Regions from separate parts of the Homo sapiens genome. Here region 1 is linked to region 2. The links come from fine-mapping of genetic effects on gene expression. A gene starts in region 2. The other region holds a variant in brackets. All regions are shown on one strand. Distances are from middle to middle. Region 1 overlaps CAMKK1 (calcium/calmodulin dependent protein kinase kinase 1). Region 2 holds the start of EMC6 (ER membrane protein complex subunit 6).

Evidence for each region.
Region 1: its variant is fine-mapped to the expression of EMC6 in CD4 T cells (BLUEPRINT, PIP 0.95).

The regions. Positions count from the first base shown.
Region 1 is chr17:3,883,476-3,891,793 of GRCh38, reverse strand. It overlaps CAMKK1 (calcium/calmodulin dependent protein kinase kinase 1), which reads left to right. Exons shown (of 16, transcript NM_032294.3): 2 at 6,064-6,466; 3 at 7,367-7,414; 4 at 7,857-7,910; 5 at 8,314-8,318. The coding sequence starts at 6,107. Among named protein-coding and RNA genes, the nearest start is that of CAMKK1, 5.4 kb to the left of the region's middle. RefSeq lists enhancers at 2,680-3,201, 3,202-3,721. The variant C/T (reference allele first, on the strand shown) is at 3,113.
Region 2 is chr17:3,664,340-3,672,657 of GRCh38, reverse strand. It overlaps EMC6 (ER membrane protein complex subunit 6), which reads right to left and starts at 3,846. Exons shown (of 2, transcript NM_031298.4): 1 at 3,759-3,846; 2 at 2,993-3,560. The coding sequence starts at 3,511. The coding sequence ends at 3,179. It overlaps TAX1BP3 (Tax1 binding protein 3), which reads left to right and starts at 4,080. Exons shown (of 4, transcript NM_014604.4): 1 at 4,080-4,170; 2 at 7,860-7,979. The coding sequence starts at 4,132. It overlaps P2RX5-TAX1BP3 (P2RX5-TAX1BP3 readthrough (NMD candidate)), which reads left to right. Exons shown (of 15, transcript NR_037928.1): 12 at 165-3,600; 13 at 7,860-7,979. It also overlaps the pseudogene RPL21P125. RefSeq lists enhancers at 2,630-3,160, 3,161-3,691, 4,224-4,754, 4,755-5,286 and a silencer at 3,793-4,132.

The DNA.
Region 1 (8,318 bases), 220 kb before region 2:
GGAAATGACTCTCCTATATGCACAGTGCAAACTTCCATCCTCGCCTCATCCTGAAATCCTGCTCAGTGCTCAGAAGAGAGCTCAGGTGCCACCTCCTCTAGGAAGCCATCCCTGAGGCCAGCACAATGAGTGAGGGGGCTTTCTCTCCAGATGTAACTCCTCTTGCTATCAGGTGCCTCTTATGTGGGGAAGACTCCACTCCAGCCACGTCAGCCTCCCTGCTGTTCTTCATACTGAGCAAGCACTGTCCCCTCATGGCGTTTGCACCTGCTGGTCCCTGCACCTGAAATGCTCTTCCCCAGATAACTACACTGCCTACTGCCCCTTCCTTCCTTCAGGTGTCTGCTCCAGTCCTGCTCCCAAAAGGCCTTCCTCAACTACACTGTATCAGCAGCATCTCCCAGCCCCTTTCTCTTGATCCTTCTTACTCGGCTGTATTTTTCTTCCTATATGTACCACTTGACATATCATATCTGAATCACTGGCTTTCTTGTTTGTTGCTTCTTGCCCCCACGAGAAATTAAACTGTATGAGAGCAGAGACTTGGTCTTTTTGGTTCACTGCTGTATCTCCCCACACAGGCTTGCACAGAGTCTGGCAGACAGCAGGTGCTCCGTGACTATTTGTGCTTGCATCCCAGGCGTCCATGTCCCTGGCTGCTCCCTAGCCTGTGACCCCCCCCCCAACCTTGCCCCCAGTCTGAGGCCACTTCTGCTCCTCTATCCATGACATTCCGAGTTCCTGGAAGGCCAGGTCTGGGAGAACTATAACCACATTTGCATGTTGGAAATCCCTCCAGCAGCTGGTGTGGAGGATGGGGTAGGGTGGGGTGGAGGTGTTAGCCTGGAGTCAGGGAAGACCCACATAGTGGGAAACGAAGCAGTGGGTAGAATCTGGACTTCTAAGGGGTTTGACTTGGTGAGCTCACCCAGCAGGTAGTGGGGAGATCAAGGAGGGCTCAGAAGAGGCGATGTCTGAGCTGTCCTCCAGGCAGCAGAGGAGAGGGAGGTGTGTTCCTGGCAGAAGGCACAGCTTGTACTGAGGCCTGGCAGCAGAACAGAGTATGCAATTTGGGAAGCTGTGGTGTGGCTGCAGTGGAGAGTAAGTGTGGGGTTGTGGGGAGCAAGGGTGGGCAACAGGGAAAGGACGAGTGACAAGGAGGGCTCCCGGATTGCTGACCTGGGTCAGGAAAGAATGGGGAGGGTGTGGTACCCGTCTCGCAATGGAGACAGAGGAGGACGAGCAGGTTTGGGGAAGATGCTGAGTTGAATCTGGGGCCTGTTGGATCTGAGCTGCTCGGGAACATGGACGGGGAGGTGGCAGCTAGCTGGAAAGAGTGGGGCTGGAGGCACAGACCTGGTGTGGAGGATGAGGAGGGGCAGAGGATGAGGCCTGGAGACCATCAGCCTCCGTGGGTGGGCCAGGACGATGCGCTGGGGGTAGCTGTGCTGAGTCAGGCAACAGCCCGTATTGGTGCTTGGGGGCTCCCCAGGGATGGTGGGAGCGGGCGTCCTCACAGCAGGAGTCGTCAAGCATGACTTGGCACCAGACGCCTGGGCCTCCCTCAAGGGGACTGAGTCATCCCGGGTGGGGGCGGGAGCTGCGGAGGGCACCCGTTGCCAGGGCCATCCAGATACTCGCCAGGATCATAAACACAGCTCCAGTGAGGCGGCCCAGGCATGGGAGGACCACCTTCTGTGTCTGGCCTGGGTGGCCGCCACCTCTGCGGCTTTCCCTTCTGTTCGGTCCTCTGCTGGTCACGGCTGTCCATCCCCTCGCCTGGATGTAGCTGGTCCCCTGCCTCGGCTTGGCACTGGGGTTCACAGCGGCCTTCCAGCGCTCAGAATGAGGCCTGACCAGGGCCTGACCAGCTCCCAGGTGGAGCTACTTGAACCCGCGTGGATGGCAGCAGGGTCTGCCTGCTCTGGGGCTCCTTTGAGGGATGCAGCTGGATGGGGCATGTCCTGTGGAAGAAGCCAGGCCAAGTGGGCGTCTGGAGCCGGGGGCCCACATTCCTTGGGAGTGGCCAGACGCTTGGGGGGTGGGGCACAGCCTGGGAGGAAAAACCTGGGTGGGGGATATGTGCCAGGCCATCTTGGAGCTGGGGGCAGAGGTGGGGTTGGACCTTGCACATCAAGGCTCTCTTGGACGCTTCTAGACACAGCCACATCCCAGCCCCACAGTGCTGTGGCACAAACTACTCCTGTGTCCACACCTCATTCTGTTCCTTCCATCGCCCTGGGAGTTGGCAGGACAGTGGCCTTCTGCTTGATGCACGTGTTAGGAAACAGAGGCTCCAAGAGGCTCGATGACTTGTCCGAGGCAGCAGATCCCCAGTCTGGGGGGACAGGATTGCAGTAGTTTTTCCCAATGAGGGAGGGCTTGAGTCTGGCTGTTCACGGCCGCAGGACTAAGCCAGTGCCCATGCCCACAGGAATCCTTCGCTGTACCATGGGCCTGGTTCCCGGCCTGTCTGTCCATCTTTCTGTTTGCCCACATGGCCCTAGTTATCCACCGAATTAAGTTTCTACAGAGTATCTACTAAGGCCTGAGCTTGGGAAGGGCCTTGAGACACCCCCTGTGTGAGCCTCCAGATGGGCCTGGGTTTCCGCCCGGGGCACAGAATCCAGCCCAGCAGGCAGTGCCAGGCTGGTGGGACCAGTGACTATGGGGAAAAGTCCAGATATGAGCTCTGGGATCAGGCTCCCAGGGCCCCCAGGGGCGCGGACCACCCCCCTACCCTGGGCATAGGTACACGGAGACCTGCAGGCACACAGGCGCATAAACACACCTGCGCACACACACATCACACCGAGGTTTTCATCTCCATGCAGTGCGCTCCTGTGTGGGGACCCACAACACACACACACACACACACACGCCACCACCCTGGTCCACAGCCTGCGCACACATATTCCCTCCTGTGGGGACACACGCCCTCACACACGCGGCCGGGGCGCCAGGCCCTGTCTCCCGGACACGCGGCAGGAACCTCGGGCCTCCCCGGCCGGCCGCCTCCCTCGCAGACGCGCTTAGTCACCTGAATTTGATCCAGGCGGGAGGGAGGGATGGGGAGCCTGACGTCAGCCCTCGCGGCCGCCTTCCGCCCGCC[C/T]GCGCATCCATCTGGGCCTCAGCGTGTCCCGAGCAATCACAACAGCAGCCGCACAACAACAACTCACTTTTACGGCCTCCTTAGTGGCAGGCACTGTTCTGAGCGCCTTACGGGCGTTCCCTCCTCAGCATCTCACCACGTGCGGTGAGGTGAGGCCCGCTAGAACCCCATCTTGCGGGCGAGGAAAACCCAAGGCACAGAGGCGAAGCCACCTGCTCACGGGCTCCCAGCCAGGAAAGGGTGCAGCCTGGCTGCCTGGCTTCAGAGCCTGGGCGCCAAACCGGGTAACAGGGCTCAGGCTGGAACAGGAAACCTTCTGCCCCGACTTGCTGGGTGACCCCGGGCCCATCCCCACCCGCTGGGCCTCCCTCTACCTATCTAAGAAAAGCAGGGAAAGGTGTTCAAGGGTAAAGGAGGATGGCCTCTTGCTGGAATGGCAACCTCAAGGAAATACGCAAATTTTATGGGCCCGGGCAGCCTGTGGCTTCTGCCTGTGGCGGCTCTGAGTCCCGTAGTCCCTGCCTAGGGCCAAAAAGCAGGAGCTCCTGACTCTGGAGTTCATTCTGTTATATGTGCTGGGGCCTGAGGCTTGCTGGGGTTGCCTCTCTGAGGCTGCTTTCTCATCTGTCTAATGGGGACAGGGCTGTAACGATCACTATGGCAACCACTCATTTATTCAACAAATATTTATCGAGTTCCTATCACATGCCAGGCACTGATGATCTTTTGGAGACAAGGCAGATGAGCGTCCTAATCTCATGAAACTTACATTCGGGAGGGAAAAACAAGGCATGCGGAGTGAGGGGAAGGGGCGGAGGGGTGGGCCACCTGCTGGGAGGAGCCTGGCGGGTCCTGGAGGGTGTTCCCAGCTTTGGCTTCCTCCTTCCTATGCTGTCTGGTTTCCAAGCTCTCCCCGAAGCTCCAGCCCCACTCACTGTCCCTCTCACCTCCTCCAGGGAGGCCTCCCTATGCCACAGCCTCTCACCTCCTCTGGGGAGGCCTCCTTATGCCACAGCCCCACTCTCTGTCCTCTCTCACCTCCTCCAGGGAGGCCTCCCTGTGCCACAGCCCCACTCCCTGTCCCCTCTCACCTCCTCCAGGGAGGCCTCCTTGTGCCACAGCCGCACTCACTGTCTCCTGCCCTCTCTTCCAGGGAGGCCTCCCTGATACTCTAGCCTCACTCAGCCTCCTCACCTCCTTCACCTCCTCCAGGGAGGCCTCCTTGATGTTCCAGCCTCATTAACTCCCTCTCACTCCTCTGGGTCCAGCTTCCATGACTTTTCCTGTTCCTAGTGTGGAGCCTCCTCTCTTCCTTTCTCCATGTCAGCACCAGCCCCACCGCCTCCAGGCTTCTACTCATTCAACACACTGCGTACCGGGCACAGGGGGTCTGGACCTCACCCTTACCCTCAGTCTACCTCCAAACCCTGCTGTGAGCCTGGAAAATATGGGAAGGCAGGGAATCCACAGGACAAGTCGGGAGACTGGGGCTCAGAGTCGGGAAGGAGCTGGTCTAGGGCCCCTGGTGGGTCAGCAGGCAGGACTGGAACCCAGTCCTGGCTCCTCAGTGGCCGGTGGACTCCAGCCAGCCCTGCCTCGCTGACATCTGTCAAAGCAAGGGGATGGGGAACGAGCGGTAGAGCAGGCGCTTCACCATGCGTACTCTGGGTCTCCCTGAGACCCATGTTCTCAGTTGCTGTGTGGGTTCGGAGGAAGTTACCAGCAGACAGGAAGGATGGAGGGTCAGGAGTTCACTCACTTCCTTCTCCTGAGAACATGCAGAGTCCAGCGCAAGCAGGGGGAAGGGCATCAGGTTGGGCATGGCCAGCGCTCTACAAGCCTGGGACAGAGATGGGGGTCTCAGGCTGAGTGTCAGGGTTCAGTCCGGGGTCAGGATGTAGCCCAGGGTCATGGCTGAAGGTGAGGGCTGGGGGTCACCTCCCTGATGTTTCAGCCGCCACACAGTGAGTTTGAGAACATGAGTCTCAGGGGATGTCATGCCCCTGTTTCACCCCTCATTCCCCTCATTCTCATCCCCTTGCTTTTTTTTGAAACCGAGTCTTGCTCCGTCACCCAGGCTGGAGTGTAGTGGCGTGATCTTGGCTCACTGCAACCTCCACCTCCCAAGTTCACACGATTCTCCTGCCTCAGCCTCCCGAGTAGATGGGATTTCAGGTGCACGCCACCATGCCTGGCTAATTTTTGTATTTTTAATAGAGACAGAGTTTTGCCATGTTAGCCAGGCTAGTCTCGAACTTCTGACCTCAGGTGATCCACCTGCCTCGGCCTCCCAAAGTGCTGGGATTACAAGTGTGAGCCACCATGTGGGGCCCATCCCCTTGTTTTGACAGACGTCAATGAGGCAGGGCTGGCTGGAGTCGGGAGCCCCAGGGAAGTCTTCCTGGAAGCAGTGAGAGGGATGGGGGTAGGAGGCTGAAACATCAAGGAGGGCTCCCTGGAGGAGGCGGGTGGGTCTGAAGCATCAGCAAGGCTTCTGAGTTACTAGTGTCTAGCTCAGCTTCCAGGAGGCAGTGTCGGAGTGCTCTGCTGTCAAGGGTTGGGACTCATGACTCACAGGGCTGCATGCTGTGCTGGGGCTGAGCTGACCCTGGGCTCTGCCCCTTCCAGTGCTGCTGGGCCTCCAGGCTTCTGCCCTGTCTGTCCTGATTCCAGAATATCAGATTCTCTCTGCTTCCCTGTGAAGCCAGCAGGCAGAAGTGACTGCCTCTGTTACCGGCAGGGATACTGAGGCCTAGAGGGCTGGCATGCGGCAGAACCGATGTGAATTCATTCAGGTCATAGGGACAGACTTGAGTTTGGGTGTTGGCAATCCCGGTAGAGGGAACAGCCAGGGCAAAGGCATGGAGGTGGGACCCACAGCGCTGTGGCTACCTTACCTGGTAGCCAGCCTGACACCCAGGAGTGAAGCCTTCTCTGCCTTCTTTTCTCAGGTTCCCAACAAGGCTACGCAGAAGAACCCCCTTGACTGAAGCAATGGAGGGGGGTCCAGCTGTCTGCTGCCAGGATCCTCGGGCAGAGCTGGTAGAACGGGTGGCAGCCATCGATGTGACTCACTTGGAGGAGGCAGATGGTGGCCCAGAGCCTACTAGAAACGGTGTGGACCCCCCACCACGGGCCAGAGCTGCCTCTGTGATCCCTGGCAGTACTTCAAGACTGCTCCCAGCCCGGCCTAGCCTCTCAGCCAGGAAGCTTTCCCTACAGGAGCGGCCAGCAGGAAGCTATCTGGAGGCGCAGGCTGGGCCTTATGCCACGGGGCCTGCCAGCCACATCTCCCCCCGGGCCTGGCGGAGGCCCACCATCGAGTCCCACCACGTGGCCATCTCAGATGCAGAGGTTGGTGGGGCAGAACGAGGGGTTGTTCATGAGCCCCTCAGTAGTCTGCAATGAAGACTCTTTCCTGCCCCTGTCTGTGCCACACGGCTATCTAGCTTTGGTTTGCATACCCTCAGAGCTGGGGAGATCACTACCTAACAATATAGCTTCTTCCCAACCAGGGGAGCTCCAGCTGAGCCAAAGGCTGCCTTCCCTAAGTCCTGCTATTCCCACTCCCAGCCCAGGCCTAGGAAATAGGTCTCTCCCTGGTCCCCTATGTAGTCTTCTTAGAGATGTGAAGATAGATGCTATGTCCCCCTTCCCCCCTAACTCTTCTCCAGCTTGCACCCCTCGCCTCTAATTCTGCCTCTTAGAGTCTGCTGTGACTCAGAAGCGGCCGGCCTGCCTCCAGCCTCTGGGCTTCTGCTGGAGTTCTTGCCATTTAGGTCTGAAAGTGAACTCAGGTTCCAAGCAGTCTACAGATGTCAGGGGCTGAGCTTTCTGTGCCTGAACCCAGGCTCTCAGCCTCTGTGCCCAGGGCTCCTCATCTTGTCCTTGGAGTCTAGACCTTCTCATTCAGCTGCTTCTGGAAATAGTTGCTCATGGGTTTCTCATGGATTAGGGTCTTCCAGACTCCAGAATCCAGACAGGAATTAGCGTTTTCCCTTCACCACTGCTTCTGGGGAACAAGGCACAGCCATGGCGTCACCATCCATGTTTTCAAACATGAGCCACGTCTTCTCGTCACATACGGGGGCGATGGCACCACCAACTTCCCCATCCAAACTCAAAAGCTTGGTGAGACCTGGGGGTCCGGGAATGAGGAGCTTATGGCCAGAATTGGACCCTGAACGGGCTCTGAGGTAGGAGCAGTGCTGCCTCCGGACCCAGCTCCACCTGGTGCTCGCTCTTCCCCCACAGGACTGCGTGCAGCTGAACCAGTACAAGCTGCAGAGTGAGATTGGCAAGGTAGGAGTGGGCAGGCCGAGAGCAGTGGGGGCTTCGGGATTCTCTGTTTGGCGCTGCTCCTTCTCTCGTGTGGGAGGGAACGGGAGGCAGAGCCAGGCAAGTCCTAGCCTGGAGGTGAGGACAGTTTCGTGCCCTGTGGGAAGTACCCAGGTACCCAGGGGGAGGGTGGAAGATGGCTCCTGATTCCCGACTCTCTGAGTTCTTGACAGTGGACAAGGAGGGACTGAGGGAGGCATGGAGCCATGTGGAGCCAAGCAGGGGCAGTTACCAGGGCGCAGGAGTCCCCTCCCCATCTGCTACAATATTTGCCCGTGAGCCAGCTGGTGGTGGGTAGTGCAGATGGGGTGCAGGAGAGACCAGAGCTGCTCGGCTCCCCACCTCCTGAGCTGGTCCTGGGAGGGGTTGCCCTGTCCAGGTGGGGCTGACTGATGCCTATCTGCAGGGTGCCTACGGTGTGGTGAGGCTGGCCTACAACGAAAGTGAAGACAGACACTATGTGAGTCTGGGGATACGAGGGAGGTGTTGCCCAAGCCAGGCCCTGGAAGCCTGAGGGGTGGGGCAGGAGTTGTGCTTAGGAGATAGAGGACAGGGCTGCCTGAGAGTGAGCTCCCTGTCCCTAGGGGTATGCAAAGGAATGAGCTTCCTAACCCTGGGGATATGCAAGCAGAGACTGGATTCCTCTGAGGGGAAAGCTCCAGAAAGGCTTGCTGGGGGAATAAGGGGAAGGGCTAGGCTCAGATATGGCCACCCCCAACCCCGCTTAACACTTACCTGGGCCACACCCTCAGGGCCAGTAGCAGATGTCCAGTGTGCCTCTCCGGACCTCAGTCCACATGTACCAGCCTGTTCTAGCCCCTGGTGGCTGCACAGTAGTGACATTTCTGTCCCTCCTTCCTTAGGCAAT
Region 2 (8,318 bases):
CTGCTGTAGGAACTTATTAATTTTCTCAAAACAATATAAACGCAGACATTCATTGCAGTATTTTTTATAGTAGTGAACATTTCAAACTTACTGCCCAACAATAGGGAAATGGTTAAGTACATCAGCTCGCTTATCCCTCTTCCTTTTTTCTCCTCTCCCACCAGGCTGAGGACTCCCTCTGCTTCTCCCTTACACCAGGAATGAACCTTTCCTTCCCACTCAGAGGAGGTTCTGAGAGGACTGAGGTGGGCAAACCACTGAGGATCTTCAGTGGGGGCAGAGAAAGGGCTCACTGAGATGGGGGGCAACGCTATGGCCTCAGCTTCTCCTTGGCGTCGTGTGCATGTGTTCCTGAAGCCGAAACGGAATTTAACAGGTCTGGGTCCCAGATCCATTTCCATGACTGGCCATGGGCTATCTATGATCTGTCAAAAGGGGACTTGGATTCAAGCTCTCAGATCCCCTTCCAATCTAAAACAGATTCTTTTTTTAAAAAAAATCCAAATGTGATTACGTCACTTCAGACTAAAAACTTCCAAAGGCTTCCCCCATTTGCTCTGAGGATCAAGGCCAGGGCAAATGGGAGCTCACTGCAGCCTCAACCTCCTGGGCTCAAGTGATCTTGATCTTCCCATTCCAGCCTCCTGAGTAGCTGGACTACAGGCGCATGTCCCCACACCCATTACTGCCCTCCATGATCTGGTCTGGGTCTACCCTGTGGCCTCTTCTCTCACTCTCTAAATACAGTCACATTCCTTCCTGCCCAATGGCCTGGAAACATGCGCTTTCCTGAAGGTAACTCCTTCCCCACACTTGCCTATGTTATTCAACTTTTGGGTTTCAGATGTAATGTTATTTCCTCAGAGAAGACTTCCTTGACCTCCATATACCCCAACTTGGGCTAGGTCTGCTATGTCCTCTTCATAGTACTCACCATGATTTAAGTATTTCTGAAGTTAGGTGATGCTGGTTTCCCCAGTTAACCATAAATCCAATGAGCACCATCATTTTCATTACTGTAATTTCTTTTTTTTTTAGACAGGGTCTCGCTGTTGCCTAGGTTGGAGTGTAGTGGCAAAATCGTGGCTTACTGTGGCCTCAACCTCCCGGGCCCAGGTGATCCTGATCCTCCCACCTCAGCCTCCTGAGTAGCTGGGACTACAGGCACATGCCACCACATCTGGCTAATTAAATGTTTTTTTGTAGAGATGGGCATCTCACTATGTTGCCCAGGCTGGTCTTGATCTCCTGGGCTCAAGCCTTGGCCTCCCAAAGTGCTGAGATCACAGCAGGAGCCACTACACTCAGGCAATTACCGTCATTCTAATGCAATATTTATTCCTCAATTAAACAAATGCATTTTATTCTTTTTTTTTTGAGAGGGAGTTTCGCTCTTGTTGCCCAGGCCGGAGTGCAATGGCATGATCTCGGCTCACCGCAACCTCTGCCTCCCAGGTTCAAGAGATTCTCCTGCCTCAGCCTTCCTAGTAGCTGGGATTACAGGCCTGTGCCACCACACCCGGCTAATTTTGTATTTTTAGTAGAGATGGGGTTTCTCCATGTTGGTCAGGCTGGTCTCGAACTCCTGACCTCAGGTGATCTGCCCACCTCGGCCTCCCAAAGTGCTGGGATTACAGGCATGAGCCACCGTGCTCGGCCACAAATGCGTTTTATTCTAAAATAACCCTCCTGACAAGAAAGGATCATGGATTAACACATGGAGGTGTTTACACCCTAAACCTGCCCAAAGTTCAACTTCAATGTCCAAACAATTTTTGTGTTTTTTTTGAGATGGAATCTTGCTGTCACCCAGGCTGGAGTGCAGTGGTATGATCTTGGCTCACTGCAACCTCCACCTCCAGGGTTCAAGCGATTCTCCTACCTCAGCCACCCAAGTAGCTGGGATTACAGGTGCCCACCACCACGCCTGGCTAATTTTTGCATCTTATTTTTAGTAGAGATGGGGTTTCGCCATGTTGGCCAGGCTTGTCTCAAACTCCTGACCTCAGGTGATCTGCCTGCCGTCGGACTCCCAAAGTGCTAGGATTACAGGCGTGAGCCACTGTGCCCAGCCTAAATGTCCAAACAATGTTTAATCTTCCCTAGACATATTCTAAAAAATACAGCTTGACTTTATTTTTTCTTATGGAAAGGACTGTCACTAAATGAAATGGAACTAAAATGACACCATATATACCTGAAAGTAGTGGTTAGTGGGAGGGAACGCTGGCCTGTGAAAGGTACACCCAGCAAACATATCAAGAGCAAATTAAGAGACCTGCATTTGAATCCTGGCTCTGTCTCTTCCTAGCTGTATCTCCTCTGGGAGAAGTATTTAACCTCTCTGAGCCTCAGGTTCCTTACGAGGGAGCTAACAATAACATCTACCCTGTAAGGTTATTGCTAAAATTAAATGAGAGGATCGGTGTAGAGTAGAAGTCACAATGCCAGCATATAGGGAACTCTTTTTTTTTTTTTTTTCCCTGAGAGACAGACGGAGTCTTGCTCCATCACCCAGGCTGGAATGCAGTGGCACGATCTCGGCTCGCTGCAACCTCTGCCTCCAGGGTTCAAGCGATTCTCTTTCCTCAGCCTCCCGAGTACCTGGCATTGCAGGCGCGCGCCACCACACCCGGCTAATATTTATATTTTTAGTAGAGACGGAGTTTTGCCATGTTGGCCAGGTTGGTCTTGAACTCCTGACCTCAGGTGATCCGCCCACCTCGGCCTCCCAAAGTGCTGGGATTACAGACATGAGCCACCGTGCCCGGCCCAGGGAGCTCTTAATACATATTAACTGTTACTGCTTCTTAGGATGTTAATAAGTTCTTTCCTTATGTAGGCCCTTAGGGCCCGTTTCTGAATGGCCTATGTGTAAATACAAGGACTTAACACAAGGCTATGGCCCATTCCTTGCTCTCCAGGAGTCAAATCTCGGCGATTTTGCATCAGTGGCAGCCTAAGCGTTACAGCAGGAAAGAACTCCACAAAGTGTCTCACGCTTCATTTAATCTGAAGAATATTACAGGCTCTCCGTCTTCAGATATAAATTATTTATAACGTTACAGAACAAGCAGCGAATTCAACCACTTAAGAACTAAGGAAGTCTACATGGTGTTAATTGCTGGCCACAGTCCTCCCGATCTGGTTTTTTAAAAAAGTCCCCCGGGCCCCCATTTCAGTAGACGTGCACCATGCCGTAGAGGAACGTCCAGAACAGGACGTAGGTGAAGAGGCCCCCGATGAGGCCTCCTGTAAAGAGAGGTCTCCGTGATTTGAAATATTTGTTCCACCTCCTTCCCGCCTTGAGAATGAGGAGCAGGGAGAGCAGGACGGAGGCGAGCAGGTAGAAGATGAAGCCGTAGAGGCCGGTGAGGCCGAGGATGCCGGCCGTGGCCCCCGACAGCGCTGACACCGAGGTCCGGCAATAATCCAGGACGGCGGCGTTGCCCCGCACGGCCGCCTCGCTGATGAACGGCGGCCCTTCCCGCTTGGCCACCACCGCGGCCATCGCACCAGCCCGGGCTCGGCCTCTCGCTTTCTCGCGGAACAACGCGGAGCTGCGGAGAAAACCAAGTTACAAGTGGCGCCCGGAGCTCGGTGAGTTGGGTTCACGCCGCCCCCTCCCCCTGGAGCTTCCGAGACCTGGCACCAGTCCTGGGCCTCGGATCTTCCAAAGACGCCGAGGAGATTGAGGGTCCGGGCCGGCCGGGAGGTGGTGGCGCGTCTGCGTTCCCCGGCCACGGTGGCCCAGTTACCTGGAACACGGCGCCGGACACACTACTTAGCGTTCCCTCAGACGGGCAGTGGAAGAAATGCCCGCGGCGCCATCTTGCTCGGAAGACTGCCGGGAGGTCTCGGGCTGCGCACGCGCCCAGATCCCGCCCCGCCCTCCGCGCCTGCGCCGTGGGCGCCCCGGACACGCTCCGCCCTCTGCCCGCTTTTCTGCGCACGCGCAGGGACTTCCGAAAGCGGAGTGGCGCTCCGGCCAGTGATTGGCTGGAGGTTTGTTAACTATTCATGAGGGGGCGGGCCGAGCGGGGCGGCCTTTGTTAAGCAGCGAGGGCGCGACCGCGGGTACTCTGCTGCCGGCTTCTCGGAGCGGCGCTGGGCGACCAGAGCAGGGTCGAGATGTCCTACATCCCGGGCCAGCCGGTCACCGCCGTGGTGGTGAGTGCGCTTGCGCGGGCTCCTCCTCGTCTTGGCCTGACCCCACCTCGCAGAGCGGGAAACGGACACCCCAAGCAGGTTGACAGAGCATCGAACCCGGGGCTCCTGCGAACCGGCGGCAAGGGCTCGGGTCCCCGCTTTGCCGGAGCGGGCCGCAGTTCCCCCAGCCACGAAACAGGGATGGCCGGGACCCGAGAGCCTCCCGAGACCCTGGACAGAGCCCAGACTGCGTGCGCAGGGCGGGGAGGGCCACGGGGAAAGGCCTGGCTGCAGGAGCCTGGAAAAGCGCCCCCTTCCCGGGCCTCCGTGTCCCCAGACGGGGAGCTGCTGGGGGCGGGCGCCGATCCCGACGTCCATGAGTCGCAGCCTCTGGAATGAGGAAATGCTTCCTCCGCTGCAGCCTGCGCCGCCGCCCGGAGGGAGATCTGGGGGTGGGGCTCTCCCGAGCCTGCCGTGGCAGCCCCTGCCCCCTTCCTGTCCAGCCTTGCTCCTCCAACCCACTCGCCGCCTGGTCCAGGGTGGACGCTCGTATAGCTGCGATGAGCGTTTCCTCTTCGAACTTTTCCTGGGTCTCCAGCCCTTAAGGCAAAAAAGTCCAGGCCTCCCTCCTGGCACTTGAGTCCTGAGTAGACCCTCCGGGGGCTAGCCTAGGCCCCTGGCCGCCCTCTGGCTTGTTTTAGGTGCTGGGTGCTATTAGACTAGGCAGAGGGAGGAAGGAAGGCTGGGACGTTAGACTCAGACGCCGGTGTCACAGAGGGACACAACCCTATGACAGAGGTGGGGAGTCCCAGAGAGAAGTGCTCAGCCAGAAAAGACCACCTCAGGAAAGACTCAGGTCTCCTGCCTACCTCCCGACAGCGTTCAGAGAATGAGAAGAAATGCCTGCCCGGTGGGCAGTAGGTCAAGCGAAAGTCCCCGCCCTGGAGCCATAGGGACTGGGTGTGTTATCTCAGTTGGGTGTGCTGGAGAAGCTCCAGCAATCAGGTGGGTGGAGGCAGAGAAGCCACTGATAAAGGCGACAAGTGAGGCTGAGCTTAGAGCACTGGCTCAGGCCTGGGCCAGGAGGAAACATTGCTGGACCAGCTGACAGCTGTCCTAAGCTTCACCCTCCCTGCACCAGCTTGACTTTTTTTTTTTTTTTTTTTTTGAGACAGTCTTGCTCTGTCGCCCAGGCTGGAGTACAGTGGCGCGATCTCGGTTCATTGCAACCTCCGCCTCCTGGGTTCAAGCGATTCTCCTGCCTCAGCCTCCCGAGTAGCTGGGATTACAGGCATGCACCAGCATGCCCAGCTAATTTTTGTATTTTTAGTAGAACGGGGTTTCACCATGTTGGCCAGGCTTGTCTTGAACTCCTGACCTCTGGTGATCCACCTGCCTCAGCCTCCCAAAGTGCTGGGATTACAGGCGTGAGGCACCACACCCGGCCCAGCCTGGCTTTTTTAGATCCCTACCTGCCCCAGAGAGAAGGCACCAGGTTTGCTCTTTAGGTAGAAGGGGGGCAGGGACAGGTGAGGAGCTACAGCAAGCCACCTTCTGCGTGACCTCACCCAGCAAATCAGTGACAGCCCTGTCTCCCAACCCAAGGGCCTGTAATCTTCTGACCGTGCCGGCAGAGCAGGCCTGGAGGAGCTCAGTTTGGGGCATGAGGACCCAGGCACAGTAGGCCTCATGCTTCCTGCCCCCCTCCCTCACGCCATAACTGGTCCCAGGGCCTTCCCCAAAACTGCAGGCCCATGCCCCCTAATTCTGGTAACACCAGGAACGTGCCTGGACATGGTGTGTATGGTCTGGCCTCTCCCTCGAGTCTTGGATTGGGGATGGGTTTGGGCAGGCTCACTCCCCAGTCCCCACCCTCTCCCATGTAGAATCCTGAGAATATTAAAGACATTTAGGCCATTCTTCTGAACCCTGGCTCCATAGATCCATCTGCCTTCTGGACACCTGCCCCGCAGCTCCTGGCACTCCAACCTAACCTGCTCCTCCTCCTCCTGGGTCCCCATCTGAATAATGTGTGTTCAGCCAGGCACGGTGGCTGGGTGCTCCTCTTGACTCCTCTCCTCCATGAGTGGTCCCTAAGTCTGTAGATCTCCATTTTCAGGTAGCTCCATGTCCCCCGGCCTCTGCACCTTGCTTTTGTGAGATGTCCGTTCCTCTACTGATTACCTGAGTGGTCATTCTAGCAGCAAACCTGACCATGCCCTACCCTACTCCGTTCCTGAGAACTCCAGTGGGTTCAGGATCAAGGTCAGGCTACCCATCACCCCCTCAAAGCCTGGTGCAAATAATCCTCCCTTTGGGAAACTTCTTTAGGTCTAGTCTAGATTGTGGTCTTCTGCTTTTTTCTTTTCTCCTTCCTGTTAAAACTTGACTTTGGGAGTGATCTGGTCTGGCTCCCAGCATCTGCTGACTGGACGGCGCTTGCCAAGGGCTTTGAAAAGAACCTGGCACAGTTGGGGACCATAGCCCCAGAGCATGGTGGGAACACCCCAGAGCATGGTGGGAATGCCCCAGAACACTCGTTTCTGCACAAGAGCAGGGTCTGGGGCTTAGGGAGACACCCCTGCTCCCCTTCCAGGACGGGATCTGGCCCCAGCCTTACACTTTCAGCCTCATCTCGCCTCCCAGTTCTGTGTCCTGCACTGGACACTCCAGTCTCACGAACACGTATCCACGGCACCCTGTGCGCTGGTCCCCGTGGCCGGCAAGCCCTTCCTCTCCTTTCTTTTTTTTTTTTTTTTTTTTTTTGGAGCCCAGAGATCCTTTATTTTTTTTTGTTTAACACCTATTATGCCATGAATTCATAGGGAATAGGTTCCAGCAGCTCAGGCGCCTTCCCGTTGGTTCTCACAAAGTGTGCTTCCCTGGGTGGAGCAGGCTGGTGCTTTAGTTGAACCCAGGTACCTTTCTCTTTGGCTTCTTTCTTTTTCTGATCATTTTCCTTCACGCGTTCCAGGAAGCTATCTCGGCTCTTAGAGTGCTTTATGTGCTCAATACGCACATTAATTCTCTTGGCAAGAATCTTGCCCTTAACTTGTTTGTTTACAACAATGCCAACAGCATGCTGGGGAACATTGTAGACTCTTCCAGTTTTGCCATGGTAACCCTTGTGGGGCATTCCTTTTTGAACAGTACCCATTCCCTTGATGTCTACAGTATCACCTTTCTTATAGATTCGCATATATGTGGCCAAAGGAACATCTCCATGTTTTCTAAAAGGCCTAGAGAACATATATCCGGTGCCTCTCCTCTTTCCCTTTGTGTTCGTCATTTTGGCGAATTACTGGAAGATGGCGGTTCCGGCCGAAAGGAAACCCCTTCCTCTCCTTTCTATGCAAGTTTGATCTCTGCTTTTCCAGAGCACCTCCTGTGAGACGGGCTTCCCACCTACAGAAGCCACAGCACCTGGACTCTTGGGCCAGCAGGGGCTTCCACCACATGTTGACCAAGACTAGTGCCTAAGACTAACAGGGGAAGTGGGGACAGGTTGAGGACACAGGGCTGTGTGGGTGGATCAATGTGGCCAAGTTCTGAGTGCCAGCTCCTCAGCCTCCCAGGCTGGTGAGCAGCTGGATTCCTGCAGGGGCCTGGGACCCAGCCCCTTGTCATGGCTCTGAGGCTGCTGCTGGGAACACCCACCAGCCTAATTCTCCAACCACCCACTTCTCTCAACTGGCTTTTTTCTTTGCCAGCAAAGAGTTGAAATTCACAAGCTGCGTCAAGGTGAGAACTTAATCCTGGGTTTCAGCATTGGAGGTGGAATCGACCAGGATCCTTCCCAGAATCCCTTCTCTGAAGACAAGACGGACAAGGTGAGGGGGTCTGGGGTCCTGGGACCGCTCCATGGGGCACAGGGGCCTGAGATGGTGGGTCTCTGCTTCCTGGGCCTGCATGGAAGGAACAGACTTCATCTCTCAAACCATGCTCTCTAAGAAGGCATCGGAAGTGACCTAGTGAGAATAAGGACGGGTGGGGTGAGGAAGGGCTGCTCAGACAGAGCCCAGGAGGAGCAGGAGGCGGCCATCAGCAGGGCCGGTGCATGGTGGTGCAGCAACTCTGCCCCGGCTCTCTCAGAACAGTCCTCACTGACCATATGTGCTGGGAGAGGCTGGGTGCAGGGACAGAGGGACGGCTGAGAATGTGCCATGCTG